2 separate regions of the Homo sapiens genome follow, and region 2 is linked to region 1. A link means that fine-mapping ties the variant in region 1 to the expression of a gene that starts in the linked region. Tissue or cell type: whole blood. Region 1 holds a variant in brackets; the other region holds the start of a gene. All regions are shown on one strand. Distances are between the middles of the regions.

The links. PIP is the estimated chance that this variant, and not a neighbour inherited with it, causes the effect.
Region 2: it holds the start of SYTL2, and the variant in region 1 is fine-mapped to the expression of SYTL2 in whole blood (TOPMed, PIP above 0.99).

Annotation. Positions count from the first base shown.
Region 1 is chr11:85,718,152-85,726,257 of GRCh38, reverse strand. It overlaps SYTL2 (synaptotagmin like 2), which reads left to right. Exons shown (of 20, transcript NM_206927.4): 8 at 1-2,226; 9 at 5,299-5,400; 10 at 7,415-7,468. Among named protein-coding and RNA genes, the nearest start is that of CCDC89, 36 kb to the right of the region's middle. The variant G/A (reference allele first, on the strand shown) is at 3,575.
Region 2 is chr11:85,806,111-85,814,216 of GRCh38, reverse strand. It overlaps SYTL2 (synaptotagmin like 2), which reads left to right and starts at 3,076. Exons shown (of 20, transcript NM_206927.4): 1 at 3,076-3,263. RefSeq lists a silencer at 2,938-3,117.

The sequences.
Region 1 (8,106 bases):
ATGAAGCAGAGGTGCTTCTAAGCCCAAAAAAAGTTATGGCAAGAGAGGAAATGGAGAAATTAAATTCAAAGGGCATACTCCAGGTGCTACCAGATGAAATCACATTTCCTTTGAGTCCACTTAGAAAGTATACTTATCAGTTGCCAGGAAATGAGTCATCAAAGGAAAATGTGGAAAAGAATACGGAAGGGATTGTTACTCCAGTGTTTAAGGAAGAAAAGGATTACTCAGAACAAGAGATTCAAGAATCCATAATAAAAACCAATGTTTTGTCTAAAGACTGCAAAGACACTTTTAATGACAGCTTGCAGAAACTGCTTTCAGAAACCTCAACACCAGCAATTCAACCCTCTGGTGGAAAAGTTCATGGAAAACAAGTGCTTGAACCAAGTGTTTCTGAAAATAGGACATGGCCTCAAAAAACAGATTTTGCTGATACTGAGGAAGAAGTCAAAGGACCTGAGAAGATCATTAATGAGCATGTTGACAAAACAGTAGTTCATCCAAAGGTTAAACGGAACTCTTTGACTGCTAGTCTAGACAAACTCCTGAAGGAAGCAACTGGAACTTCACCCTCTCCCTTGCAAGCCAAGTTGGCGCCTGTTATCACTGGAACCAACTCTAAGCTGGAAGAGGGGAGATTTTTTGGAAAAGGGATAGAACAGAGTCACAATACTTCAGCTGATAAGAGAGAAATACTAGCTCCTTTTCCAGTGAGAGATGAAACTTTTGGAAATACAGCTCTCCTCAAGAAAGCTGAAAGTGGTGAGTGCCAGCTAAGCACACAGAATTTGATTCAGATGGCTGCAGAAGATTCTCATCCATTGGATCCAACTTCCCAGCTTTCCAGAAAGGGTTCTTTTGGGGATGTGGCCAGCCCTCCCCAAGATATGCTTTTTCCCCAGGATGCTCATCTTGTTCCCCAGGCTAGGGTACACCCTTCTCAAACGGAAATTTCGGAGACTGTAGAGAAAGTCATTCTTCCACCCAGACCTGTATTGAATGATGTAAGTGCTGCATTACAGAAGCTGTGTGGAGAAGTATGGTTAAGTTATCCAGCTGGAAGGGAAGTAGGTCCTGGAGAAGTGAACCCAGAATTTCCTGAAGCAGTACAGCCAGTATGTAGCCCCCTAAATCCTCCAGGAGTGATATCACCATGGGCTACGATGGACACCATAGTTCCAGACAGGAAGGATTTTTATTCCTCCAATGTAGTTCCTGATAAAACTCATGAAGTTGGATCTTATTTAGCTGCCCAAATGTCTCCATCAGACCAGACGCTTAGCTCATTTGCTTCCATTGTTGCTCAATATGGCAAAGGCCTCCCTCAGGAAGTGGAAGAAATTGTGAGGGAAACAATTGTTCAACCCAAATCAGAGTTCCTCGAATTCAGTGCTGGCTTAGAAAAACTACTGAAGGAAGAAACTGAAACCTTCCCCTCAAAATATGAAAGTGATACAGGGAATCTTTCTCCATCAAAGTTAATAGGTAGTACAGAGGAGCCCAGGCGAGCCACTTCTGAATGCCATCCTGAGGAATTAAAAGAAACAGTAGAAAAGGCCGAGGCTCCGTTAATAACTGAGAGTGCTTTTGATGCTGGTTTTGAGAAACTTCTTAAAGAAATAACTGAAGCTCCTCCTTATCAGCCCCAGGTGTCAGTGAGAGAAGAAACTCACGAGAAGGAGTCCTCACAGTCAGAGCAGACCAGGTTCTTGGGGACAGTGCCCCATTTTTACAGGGCAGCCTCACAGACCTCTGAAATGAAGGATAAAAGTAATGGTTTGGAATCTCAAGTCAACCAATGTGATAAAATGTTGGGAGGAGACGCACTTGTGACTGATTTATTGGTAGATTTTTGTGGTTCCAGAAGTGGAGTTGAGATCCCTAGAACCCCACAACTTTATGTGGCTCATGAAATAGGGACCATTAAAACTGTAACCCCCCCAGAGGACAGGGACAGTGAAAGTGGGGTTGCAGGGGGACAAGGGACTCTTCAGGAACCTGGCTTTGGAGAGGCTTCTGAAGCAATTAGTGTGTCCAGAAATAGGCAACCCATTCCTCTCCTGATGAACAAAGAAAACTCTACAAAAACAAGTAAAGTTGAATTGACTCTAGCATCGCCATATATGAAACAAGAGAAAGAGGAAGAAAAAGAAGGTTTCTCTGAGTCTGATTTTTCAGATGGAAACACCAGTTCTAATGCAGAGAGCTGGAGAAATCCTTCCAGTGAGCATTTAAAATTTTTTAACTCACAGTGAGTCTGCTTTATGGAATGCTGATGTAAAGGATGATTTTTTTTAATTGGGATTAATTTGATATTCTTAAATGATGTTAAATTCTTCTTACCACTTCTGTGTTCCTGAGACTTTCTTAATTAAAAAAATTATTTATATTTTTTAATCAAATGCATTACATAATTCTTAAATGATGTTAAATTCTTCTTACCACTTCTGTGTTCCTGAGACTTTCTTAATTAAAAAAATTATTTATATTTTTTAATCAAATGCATTACGTAAAACAGCTTTCCTATAAGGCTGTTTCAGAGTCTGAGTTGACTTCTCTTTAATCTACCTATAGAACTTTTAGGTTTCAAAAAATACTTTTTAAATGACTTTTTGGGTTTGGAAAGTACCTTTAATACATTTAAGCTAGTTTTCCTCCTGGAAATATTTAGAATTTCTTCCTTAATTGGCAACCTTTATAGAAGTCTGGTAAGATTTGTCGCAAAGATGTGCCACAGATGGACACAAATTTCCCATTCGGGAGCAATATCTTACCACAGTGGTGGCTAAATGCTAGGGACAAAATACAAGGCCGGAACTTTCCTTCCCTCAGATACCTTGTGCTGTGGTGTTTTGTTGCCACTTTCTCCCTCTCATTTTCAATTATATGCACAATCTTCCCTTTCTAGAGTATGACTTTGGCCAGATGACTCACCTGATGCCACCTAAGGGCATTGCCTGGCCAGGTACATTTCTCTGGCTCCAGCCTTGGCTAAGTTGATGACCTGAGTCGATCTCCACATTCATCTACATGAACGTGGGGGCGTTGGTTTTGGCGGCCAGGCTGTAAAATGTAGGGCTTGTCTCAGTTTGCTATTTAATCAACATGTGGACATTTTAGCAGAGAAACCCCAGAGCAAATAGGAATGAGAAGCTACCTGATTAAAATGATGAAATGATAGAGAATGTTTTTTGGCTGGGACATTTTAACCAAAGTTGCACAACTGATGCTGATTGCCTTCCTTGTAGTTTAGTAGAATTTGTCATTTGTTTAGCTCCTTTTCGTTCCAGTGAAAATAGATAAGCTTTACTGAGTGGCTTACTTTGAGGTGTGGACTCCTTTGTAAGTAGCTATAGGGTCTCTTCTTGAACACTGACCAAAGAATCCACCTTTAATCCTATTCAGTTAAGTTGAAGCCCCTCTAAAAAATTTTGTTGTTAATAAAAAAAAGAAAGAAATTGAAATATCAATCTCTAAAACCATACATATTTATTTATAAATCTCTAATTAAATCTCTAAATTTATTTAATCTCTAAAGTAAATAAATTTAATTAATTAATAATTAATTAAT[G/A]TAATGGCAAGAATAAAGCCAGCATGTTAAACTTGTTGAGGTAGGCTCTTACTAAACTGCCCATGAGTTGCTAGTGTAAACTGACCCACAGGAGAAGGAGCGCTTGCAAATTTGCAATTATGTTAGAGACTATCATCTAATGTGTATCCCAGCATAACTGACTGAATAGTAAAAAGCCTATCTAAAAAGGCAGCGTTAAATAATCACCTAGGCTGGGCACGGTGGCTCACGCCTGTAATCCCAGCACTTTGGGAGGCCAAGGCGGGCAGATCATGAGGTGAGGATATCGAGACCATCCTGGCTAACATGGTGAAACCCCATCTCTACTAAAAAATACAATAAAGTAGCCGGGCGTGGTGGTGGCTGTAGTCCCAGCTACTCGGGAGGCTGAGGCAGCAGAATGGTGTGAACCCTGAGGCGGAGCTTGCAGTGAGTCGAGATCACGCCACTGCACTCCAGCCTGGGCTACAGAGCAAGACTTCATCTCAAAAAAAAAAAAAAAAAAAAAAAAAATCACCTAAACAGAGCCCAGAGAAGACATTTTAGAATAACAAGCCAATTAAGAAGTATCAAATGGTATAGTCATGATTTTAATTTAGGTTTATATACTCTAACCTAAATTATTATTTTAAAGCAAACTGCAGTGGGGGTGGGGTGAAAAATGAAGAGAAACCTACTATAAGGGTACTGTAATTTTGGGGAGCAAGCTAACACATTTGACTTGCGGCTGAGCTCTTAACTAAGCAATACCTCAGTATGCTCCTTTGGGAAAAATTAAAGGTTCAGTAGTCAAATACTTTTGGAAATGCTGGGCCATTATGCACAGAGAAGGTCCGCAGTAAGGAACATTTTAAATTTGAACAGAGAACATCCAAATCTAATTCATCTTAGAATCCATTTGCTATGGAATGTACTAGGCAGAACTGGAATGTATTTCAGGAAATTATTGTCTAGAGAAGTGGTTCTTAAATTAATTGATTCCTTAATCGAATCACTCATTGATTCAGCAAATATTTTGAAGTGTTTATTTCCAGCCACTGTTCTAGGCACTGAGAATACAGCAGTAATAAATGTCAGTACTTAAGCTTATTCATGATGCAGCCATTCCTTTTATAAAATAACGGCATTAGTAAATGATAGAGGCCTCCCTCCCGCAACTTTAAAATGCCTTACTAAAATAAAAATTTGACTATCCCATGTTATTTCCCAACATTTCATTGGAAATTATACTAGATCATGAAACCCAGAAAGTCTACAACCTTTGATCTGGAGAATGCACTCATATGTGTACCCAATTATACACAGATGTTAAACATCTGAATCCTGCCTTCCACGGTTTTGAATTAATTTTATTAATGCTCCTAGAAGTATTTCATGGCTGTCTTCAAAAGCTAGAATGTTAAATGGGAAGAGTCAATGTCTGGCATAGGACAAATCATATGTCTAAAATAGGAGTAAACAACTAAGAGATCACATTTCTATTAATGTGGTAATCTTGTTTTTGTAGGGTTTACGTTTGCAAATATTTCTTGACCAGGAAAATTATGTTTAAGAGCATATTAATAGTGGAGAAATTTTATTTTCTTCTGTGAAATAAGTGCTTCTTAAAGTAGAAACTCATAGCATAATGTCTCTTTTCAGCCTACCATTTCTATGTCCATATGTTAGAGGATTTTTTTTTTTTTTGGTATTGTGCAGTGTTCATCGATTTTGTTTTATAACAGGTTCAGAAGAAGAACCCAGTCCTGTTTTGAAAACTTTGGAAAGGAGTGCCGCTAGGAAAATGCCTTCCAAAAGTCTAGAAGACATTTCATCAGATTCATCAAGTGAGAATAAAGTTCGCCTCACTGTTCATGCCCCATCTAAGCTTAAAAATGCCTATGTGCTCTCCTGTAGCCTCACTGCGTGCTGTTGTGCACTGCACCCTCTAATGGGGGCAGTTAACAGATGAAAATAACCTCTCCAAAGTGCGCTGAAGAGGCTCAACCTAAAGTGGCTGGAACTTTGCTTATAAAATAATATATTACATTTGGTTACTAAAACACTAGGTTTCCTTTAATTGAAGAATCCCAGTTTGAGTGTTTCTCAAGTACAGTGAGTTTCAAAGGATAGTGGTAGCTAGTAGTATTAGTGAAAATAGTCATAACTAGCATTTATTGAATATTATTTGCCAAAACGTGCCTAACAATTTTACATGTATTATCTCATTTAACCAGCACAAGCAACCCTATGAGAGGTGAATTATTGTTATCCAAATTTAAAGATGAGGAAAATGAAGCTCAGAAATGTGAAATGACCTTTTTAGTATTACACGGAAGATCTGGGACTCAAAATTAACAGGCTATTATCAAGAACATTTATGAAGGGACCACATTATATATGACAGCGTTGGATGTCCAGTGAATTTTGCATGATACGGAGTTGAATTAGTCCCTGGCTTCAAGGACTTTCCTTTCTCTTTTATCCCTTCTATTCTGTTCACACTTTTCTTCTAGATACTGGAACTATAAGCCCAAAACTACTTAACATGAAAGACTTTAGGTACACGATTCCCCACTGGCAGCTGCTTTAATGGTGAAGGATTTCTTGAGTACTAGCAGAAAACATAATATATAAAGAGAGTTGTGTGCTAGACAAATGGACTAAGAAACCATGATTTCTTGGGGTTTTGTTCTTGCTATTTTCAAGCTAAAATGCACCCCTGGGATTGCAGATGGTCATAAGAAAAATTATCAAGTGAAAAGTTAACCACTGCCAAACTCATATGATTGAAAATTGGCCATTGTTATGTTTAGAATATTTTTTGTGCATTTGCAATTAAGAATAAAAAGTCAGAATTTAAAAATGAAAAAAAGAAAAGAAAAAGCCACTTCACCAAACATTTCCTAAAATTCACAGATTCCCAGGGGTTTGAAGACAGTATTCCCAATTTGGAATGTAGTCCTGACTATCCCAAGGATCTTGGAATCTCAGGGTTAGAAGGGATCTTAAAAATCACCCATTTTAACCTCCCCTCAATGCAGGAATTCTCTCTAAAGCCTCCTCAACAGGCGGCCAACCCCCATATCCGCCTGAATGCTTCCAGAGAAGGCGAGTCGAATCCTTTGTTGGACAGCCCTGATTGTTTTTCCTGATGTTGGTGATGGGCCTTGAGAAAAAGAAAAAAAGAAAAAAAAAATCTCAGAACAATTGGCCCATTTAGCAAACCTCTTGCCTGTGAAACATGGGGCTATTTCCATGGTGCAGCTTTAAAGTACTCAGGAATGTATAGGGTTAAAAAAAAATCACCATCAGCTGACGGGTATTCCTGCACGCTCCCTTCCAAATACTGATACCCACTCTCACACTAGCCTGCCAAGATTCCACTTAGCAGCTGGTCCCCAGTTACATCTCTTCAGTTGACTTCCCAAGCAAGCCTCCCAGAGGCATATGTGAATGATGATGCACACACACAAATATTTGTTAATGACCATGGGTTTGGGAAGGTGTTAGTCATGGCTAGCATCATACCCTTTACAGAAGAATAGAGAGGCTGTTGCAGCCCCGTGCTTTCTCCTGCTGCTGGCCGATTGCTTGCTCTGAACTAACCCTCTAACCCTTGGGAGTCTGTGTGCAGCAGTGATGTGAGCTGCATCCGGGCTGAAATGGGAGCTCCCGCTATGGCACTGGCTCAAGGAGCTAATCTAAAGAGAAAGTATTTTGGGGAAGACATCTTGGTTGCACCCCTCATTGCATCTTGACTAATTGCTTCCAACTCCGGGGGCTTCCAGGGACAATCTCATTGTTCTTTTCTCTCCAAGGGTCAGCCATGTTAACCATTTGTTAATTTCTTCTGAACAGATCAAGCAAAAGTAGATAATCAGCCAGAAGAATTAGTGCGTAGTGCTGAAGATGGTAAATATCTTTATGTATTTGCGTGTCTGTCTTTGTATTAACTTCTGGGGTGATTTGGGCAGTCTCCGGGACGCAGCTGTTGGGTAAACAGAAGAACGTCATTTGCCACTATGTGGTGAATAGTGCCTAAGTTACTATAAAACAGTTCTGATTTGGTACATTTAATATAGTTTGTATTCTTAAGGCTTCTTCTGGTGATACTGTCATGAGGATCTCATCAGAGACCCTTGTGAAGCAAGGGTTTCTATAAATAGAAAATTGTATTTCTTTGGATGTGAGCTGATTTTTGCTACTCTGACTTGCAGAACTCTTTGTAAAGGCAGGAAGAGTGGAGTGAATTCCTGGGTTAAGTTATTCTTCTGTTTGATTCTCAAGTCTCAGCATTTAGATCTCTCTGGGCACAACTGGTAAAATCTTAAATTCAAAGGAAAGAGTCCCAGAACAAGGGTGGGAAATCGTGCCTCTGCTTATATAAATAACTAAATATAGACAGAGGGTGAAGTTGATTCTGAATATAATGGAGCCAGAAGATCTTGAAGCTTGTCAGTGGATCAGGTATTACTTGGCTCTGTTATAAGATGAATAGTATAGTGGTGCCTTGGTTGAGGGAGAGACAGAAATGAGTCTGATTTTTATAT
Region 2 (8,106 bases), 88 kb before region 1:
CAGGCAGAGGCATGGAGATTATTCTTTCCAAAAACTATAATAACTCTCTTCCAACCATTATCACACCATTAGCTAACAGGAATTGAGATCTTACCTTGGGCCAGGCAATATGCTATATGTGTTATGTGTTATCTCCTTGGCATGGGGCAGGTAATATGACTACTTCTATTTTATAGAAGAACAATCGCTAACAGAAGTTAAGTGACTTAGGCTGGGTGCAGTGGCTCACGCCCGTAATCCCAACACTTAGAGATGCTGAGGCGGGCAGATCGCTTCAGCTCAAGAGGTCAACATTGCGAAACCACGTCTCTACTAAGAATACAATAATTAACTGGGCGTGGTGGTGTGTGCTTGTAGTCCCAGCTACCTGGAAGGCTGAGGTGGGAGGATGGCTTGAGCCTGGGAGGTTGAGGCTGCAGTGCGCTGTGTTTGTGCCACTGCCTGGGCAACAAAGTGAGACCCTGCCAAAAAAGGAAGGAAGGAAGGAAGGAAGGAAGGAAAGGAGGGAGGGAGGGAGGGAGGGAGGAGACTTGTCTAAAGTCACCCAGAGAAAGAAGGAAATTAAGTGACTTGTCCAAAGTCAACCAGCGAGTTCTGTGGTAGAGCCAGGAGATACACCAAAGTCTGTGCATTTAACCTTACACCATGCTATCCCTACCCTCTTGCCTTCCCCTTCAATGTCAACCTAGAATTCTCTAAAGTTTAAGTGTCACTTATATGTAAACCATTTTGAAGGGTTCCTATGGGATAAGTGGAACAGGCCATTGCTGACTTGATATGATCGTGTTAACCAAGGCTTTTTCAGTGCACTGTATGTGCAAGGCATCATGCTAAACATGTGCATCTTCTTTTAATCTTCACAGTAGGCCTGAGAGAGCAGTGCAATTATTTTCTCTCTAACAAATGAGCAAACTGAAGCACAGGGAGGTTGAGTAATTGGTCTAAGGTCTTATTAGAAATTGACATTTCTAACAGCATTTGGATCTTGGCCAAGAGCTCTAAGATTTAGTCTCTGAGCCATACAAGATTTAGATGAATTGGGAGCCATAACAAGACCCTGCCTTAAAATTTCTCCCCCACTTGCCTGCCCCACAACCTGAAGCAAGGATCCTGTGACCCTCTCTAGCATTTAGGCATTGCTATTTGTTTCCAGGGGACGAGTGATACTGGGAACAGCATGTATTTAGTTCCTTCAAAGTCCTATGCCAGATGATACAAGGCACCCAGAGGTGAGCAAGACCCAGTGCCTGCCCTCCAGAGCTAGAGAGGGGCAGGAAGGGGATAACCAAGGCAGGTGCAATCAACAATAAAAGTGAAGTACCAAAAGCATCTGAGGTCACGCTACTCCCCTGCCTAAAATCATTCGCCAACAGCCATCACCAACAGGACACAGCCTGCTTCCCTCAGCAAGGCAGGTACAGCCACTCCTCCAACATCTGCCCACCTACCTCCTTAGCTTCATCTCTGCCTCATTGTCCCAAATCCTGTGCAATAGCCGTGACATATGACAGGCATCTCCATGTCTCTGCCTGCCTCTCTGTGCCCAGTCTTCTGTCACCCCTTCAATCTGACCTAATTTGTAGCCCTCCTTCAAGACCTACCTTGGTCACATTTGTATTTTTTATTGTCCCCCTCCTTCAGCGTAGTGACTCTACAACACTTTGTCAACCTATTATAACACTTACCCTAAAATGAAATTATTTACAAATTTGTTTCTTCAAAGGCAAGACCAGTGGCTTATTCCTCTTTTGCATGTGGCATGCTCACCCAGCACAGGGACACACCAGGCTCTCAAAGGCTGAAGGAAGCCAGAATACACATCTCTGCACAGTGCCAGGACTCTTGGGCCAGGCTAGCAGCCTGCACTGGGCACTAACTGAAGCCCTTGGGGATAAGTATTTGTAAGTTTGGGAGAAGGAAGACCTTTGGAAGAACCAAAGGCAGACCTGGGCCACCCTCAGTTAAATGGACAACACTAGTCCAGGAAATGATAAGGAAAAAGGCTTTAAGGTTCATCTCCTTCAGAGGTTTGCCTGGGCTGGCCCCATCATGGGTAACTTGTAAAAAATAGGTCGTGATACAATTTTTAAATTATTTTATTTATTTTTTTGAGACAGAGTCTTGCTCTGTCACCCAGGATGGGGTGCAGTGGTGCGATCTTGGCTCACGGCAGCCTCCACCTCTCGGGTTAAAGCGATTCTCCTGCCTCAGCTTCCTAAGTAGTTGGGACTACGGGCGCTCGCCACCACACCCAGCTAATTTTTCTTTTTTCTTTTCTAATTAGAACAGAGTTTTGCTATGTTGGCCGGGCTGGTCCCGAACTCCTGACCTCGGGTTATCCACCTGCCTCGGCCTCCCATAATGCTGGGATTACAGGTGTGAGCCACCGCGCCCGACCACAATATTGTATTTACTGTATTGCATTGTCTGCCTCCCTGCCACACAGCGTCTTCCAGGAGCTTACCAGTCCTCTGTGCATACCCCAGTAAGTAGCTCAGGCAGTGCATGACGCCCTCACCTTTCTCTAGGTATTATTGTATTTTAAAGCATCACTTCATTTAGTCCTCTCAACAACTTTTTTCCCCCCTTCTTCTATTTCACATGTGAGGAAATTGACGTCCCGAGGGTTAAAGCAAGTTACCCCATGACCGGGCTCCATACCCTCCGCGCCCCTTTCCCTGCGCGGTGGCTGTCCCTTCTCGGAGTGCAGAGGCTCCTAGTGCTCCACACTCTCGGGCTCCAAGGCCCCCTAACGCGCCGTGATAAAAATAATAATAACAATAACAACAGTGCTGCTTTATTTGCACAGAAAACAGGTTGTTTCGGGGCAAGGTACACTTGAGAAGGAGGCTAGGAACCGGAGAGAAGCAGCAGGCGGGGGCGGAGGGCGAAGGGAGGGAAGGGGAGAGGGCAGGGGCTGGCAGGCGCTGTGTGCCGGGCGAGGAGGCCGGGGCGGGCCGGGGCGGGGAGCGGGCGAAGCGCCATTGGCCCGAGCACCCGGGACCGGCCCCACCGCACCGCCCGCCGGGGGCGGGGGTAGCGGGGAGGGACTCGCGCACGCCGCTCTGCGTTGACAGTGCCGGGCGACACCCGGGCCGTGCCGCCAGCGTCCGTCGGGAGAGTGAAGGCTCGCAACGCCTTGCCCGGGGGAAGGTAACGCGCCGCGCCCGGGGCTGCGCGGTTTGCACCGCCAGGCCGAGGGCTGGGGGCCAGAAGACAAGAGAGACGGCGAGGCGCGCTCCCTGCCCGGCAGCGACTCGGAGGTGCGCACTCGGGTTCCAGTCTCTACTTGGCCCACTCGCTGTGTTACCTCGGGCAACTTTGTTTCCCTCTCTTGGTCTCTGCTTCCTCCTCTGTTAAGTGAGGGAGGTGGTGTAGAATGTTGTTCCTTAGTCTAACCAGTTCTAAAATGGGAACTGCGTTTTGGCACGGGGAAAGCTCCTTTCCTCAGTTTCCCACCTACTCCAGAGCCACCTCCGCTGCCCAGGCGGCCAGGAAGCTGGGATGCCCGGGTAGGCGAGGGTTCTGCTGAGCTATCGCGTTTTCTAGGGCTTTCAGGGACTGACCTGGGCTTGGGGCTGGGTGCTGGGGAGACCTGGCTGCAGAGTAACTGCCCCCAGATTGCTCAGGTGCAGAAAGGTAGGAGCGTCAGCACCTGTTTACAGGTGGGGTGTTGGGAAGGGCCGGCCAGGGGATGATGATTTCTCCTTTGAAAATAAGACGTGTTTTGGAATTCTCTTCCATACCCACACCTCGTCCCACGGCGAGCTATAAACTACACGAGTGGGCTTTATCATCCTTTGAAGTGGAAAAGCGACTGTTTTTAGCGTCTAAGACACAGGGCTCCACCAGCATATAGGAAGTGGGTCTCTCTTTCTCTGCACCCATCCTGCCGCGTCTTCCCTTTCTTTCCTCCTCTCTTTATAAATCCCCTTTGACCTTGAGGGGCTCCACTTCCTGCCTTAATGAAAAGTTCTTCTTTTCATTTAGTGCTGGTTTGTGACCAGCAGCCTCCAGGGCTTTGGGCGCAGGGTTGAGATAGAAGCCTAGATAAGAACAGGCTATGAATCACCCTGTCAGCCCCCTGAGCCACACAGCCCGGCAGGGATGTGCAGAGGAAGCCCGGTGGGGCTTCAGACAGATAGACCCTGGAAGGTGGGGTGGATGCAAACTGCCATCCAGCTTCCCGTCCCCTTGTTGGCAGCCATTCCCCACCAGGATGGTGACCCCTGCTGTCTGCTGGATGGAGCAGCCAGATAGAGTAGGATGATTGAAAGGAGCTGAGGACTTGGCTGGATTTCTATGGAAGGTCTCCAGCATTTCCCTTCCCTCACTTTCCTCCACCCCTGAAGTTCTGCCCCTTCTCACCCTTAGTGTGGTATCCAGGTGAAATCAGATTGCAGAACCCATCAAGAGCAGCTAGGAAGGAGAAGAGGTGTGGGGACGGCAGCAGGGCAATGTTGACTGCTGTTTAGTGGGCACTTACTATGGGCCAGACACTTCTTTGTATGTAATATATCCTTAATTCTCACAAAGCCACATGAGGGGTGATGTACTATACCCTATTTTATAGGTGAGAAACAGGCTCAGAAAGATTGCTTCCTTTAGTCACTTAGCTAGGAAGTAGCATAGCTGGAATTCAAATCCAATCTCTGATTCTAAAACCTGTGTTCTTTACACTGTCTTTGTGCTCCTTAAGTAAGAGCAAGCTGGAATAAGGAGAGCAAAAATGTCTAACATTGTGTTCTCACCAGGTGTCAGGCACTATGCAAAACATCTTAGAGCTATTATGTCATTTATGGTGCAGGAGTTTCCGTTATTCTGGAGGTAATCTGTGACTGCCTTAGCCTCTCAGCAGCAGTACTGTTCTAGAAGGCCTACCCTAATCCTGCCCAGCTGCTAGTGCGTGGGTGGGGCAGGGCCCTGTTTGCTTTATCCTAGAGGTGGTTTGGGGTCTAATGAAAGATTGATTGTCCACATCTGACCCGTTAGCCCTAACCGTTGGCTGGTGAATGATTCCACTGTCCCCTAAGAGGCCTTTTTCAGGTTTTGCTCAATAAACATTTGTGGAATGAATGAATTAGCACCTTGTGCAGAGTGGTCTGCTGCCTTGTAGAAATGTGAGGCAGCCTAGGGGAAGCCCAGGTTCCACCATCTTCAAAACCCAGATGCTAGTCTAGGTGTTTCTCCTCTTTGGGCAAGGGAGGTAGGGTGAACTGTGCCTGTATAGGCTTCCAGAGCTCCCTGGAAATATGTTTGCTTGTCACCTGTTTTACAAAGAATTTTTAAACATACAGTAGATGAAGAAAAATGTGGCTTTTTTTTTTTTTAAATTAAGAGGAAAACTTACTTGGTATTAATGAGGTTGTCACTCTCTCAAAAGTTGGGGGGATAAGATTATAATGTTTGTCTTAGGGCTTACCAAACTTTTCCATAGAAGATCCTGCAATGGAAAAGAAGACCAACACATGCTCCTGTGCTTATGCAATTTTTTTCATTTGATTTCATAATATATGGACTTTGATTTAAAAATATAAAGTTTTTTCTTCAAAATATCTGAATAAAACTGGTGTCCTGGCAGATTGTTATATATTCTTAGGGGCTTCGAGTACCCAGATGGAGAAGTAGGACCAAGGTTCTAGAGGGCTTAGACTACTGTTTGAATTTTCCACTCTCTGGTTCACAGTAATAGAGCTTCTCTAGTCCCTGGGGAGACATCCACTTTTTTCCCATTTTTCAGAATGAAGAATGTTTTAAAAATAAAAATATCCTTTATTTTCTTATTACCAAAACTAAACATATTCATTGTAGAAAAAAATATAAGATCCAGATTAACATTAATAATAATATCAGGCCGGGTGCAGTGGCTAATGCCTGGAATCCCAGCACTTTGGGAGGCCGAGGCAGGTGGATCACAAGGTCAGGAGTTCGAGACCAGCCTGGCCAATATAGTGAAACCCCATCTCTACTAAAAATACAAAACTTAGCTGCGCGTGGTGGCATGCGCCTGTAGTCCCAGCTGCTCAGGAGGCTAAGGCAGGAGAATCTCTTGAACCCGGGAGGCGGAGGTTGCAGTGAGCTGAGATCATGCCACTGTACTCCAGCCTGGGTGACAGAGCAAGACTCCATCTCAAATAATAATAATAATAATAATGATATAAATACATCTATACTCAAATAATTAAAGCAAAACTTGGGATATAGCGTTCCAAATCTTTTTCTTTGCATCTATATTAACAAATTTTAAAAACACACACACAAATACAGCCCTTTTGACTGAATTATTGTCAGAGCTAAGAGCCATCTCAGATTGTTTTTGACAGAATGTAGAGAAAAAATCATGAATAATTAAAAGCATCATGAAGGTTAATCTTGTTTGTGAGCCCCGAAGTTCACCCCTCATAATTTCCCTGTATTTATCTTGTGGGAGAGATGAGTGCTGGGCCATGGGGCTGCTGTTGAAAATGCAGGGTCAAGCTGTACTCTTGCTAAACATCTCAAATATAACAGAAAAGGTAGCTCTTTAGTGTTGCTGATGTGCAAAATTTGAGCAGAAAATTAAAAAACTAATTTGCACAGTAATTTGCAGAAAATTCAGGAGGGTCCTGGAGAAAGTCATTGCCCCAGCATTGCATTTTATTACCTGTGTGACCTTGGGCAAGACAGATGGCTTCTCTGAGCTGGTTTCCACTTTTATAAATTGATGATAATAAACAAATTCTATCCTCACTTACCAGAATCACTATAAGGATCAAGTGTCAGGTGTTATTGTTTGTTACTTGGATTGCATGCATGTGTGTATGCTATTAATATTTTAAAAATGTTTAAACATAGAGGCAATAAAACATTATCAGTCTTTATAAAATCCTGGAATCCAACTCTTGGTATTAGTAGGACTTAATCATGATGTAAATGCTCTATTGGGACTCAAGTTTTCTTCAAAGAATGTAGGTTTCCTTGGTGGCTAGTATCTCATTGATCCTCATCACAATCCTGAACAGAAGAGGACAGAAGATAGTCCCATTTTATAGAATGAAAGCAGGCTTGCCACTCAAGGGAATTGTTCAGTTACACAGGGAGTCTCAGAGCTCCTGGGAGCTGTCTTGACTTGCCCTAAGCAAGGCAGAGGCTTGCTAAGAGGAAGCAATGAGAGCCACTGGAAAGGCAGTGTACCCATGGGGGCATGTGAGTGCCAGTAGCCATTGCCTCAAGGACTGCTCTCAGGCATACGCCGTGCTCCTGGATGCTCTGAGGAAACAATGGGCCCTGCACTGGGAGGCAGGTGGCTTGGTTTCAACTTCTGCATCTGGCAAAGACAATCTGTGCAATCTGGGTTTAGTCACACTTTCTCCCTGAGCCTTGGTTTCCTTATAAAGTTAGAGAATTGGACCAGATGAGGGTCCTTCTTGTCTTAAAAGTCTGATTCTGGGTTGTTTTCTATTCATGGTTTCCCAAGTTGAAGTCTGGTAGAGAATTTCCACATCCAGATGAATGAGATATGAGAAAATGTTTCTACTTTCTGTTGCTTCAAGCTTTTGACGCCTCCTCCTGATTTTCTAAGGGCCTCCTCTATTGACTGCCTTCATGCAGAACACATGATCCACAGATCATTGAGAGGAGAGTGGTTTCTGCTTATTTATTTTTTATTATTAATCTATAACCTCTTGAGATTGTTAGGAAAACTGCTTTAAGGGAATTTTGGGGAAGGTAGGTTGACAGAAATACAGTATAATGAAAGCAGGTTTAAAAAATGGTAATAAAGCCATGTGTTTCACTAAGTATTTGCCTCTAAAGTCACTACATACAGTATTTTTGCCTAGTGCCCATTTGGGCACTTGGACCTGTGCTAGGACTTTTGCAGAATGTGGGAGAAGCACATGACCTCACTCTTAAGTGGCTCAGAACTGGAGAGGGGGAGAAAGAGAAGGAAAAAGGGAGCAAAGACATGTGCAGCTATGATTGGAATAGGATGGAGATGAAAAGAACAATTTAGGAAAAGATTGAGCCCCTGAGGGCTCAGACTTTGTGGTTTATTTCTGTATCCACATAGCCTGGCACTGTTCCTGGCACTCAATGGGAACTTAGTATAAGTAATTTAAATTAATT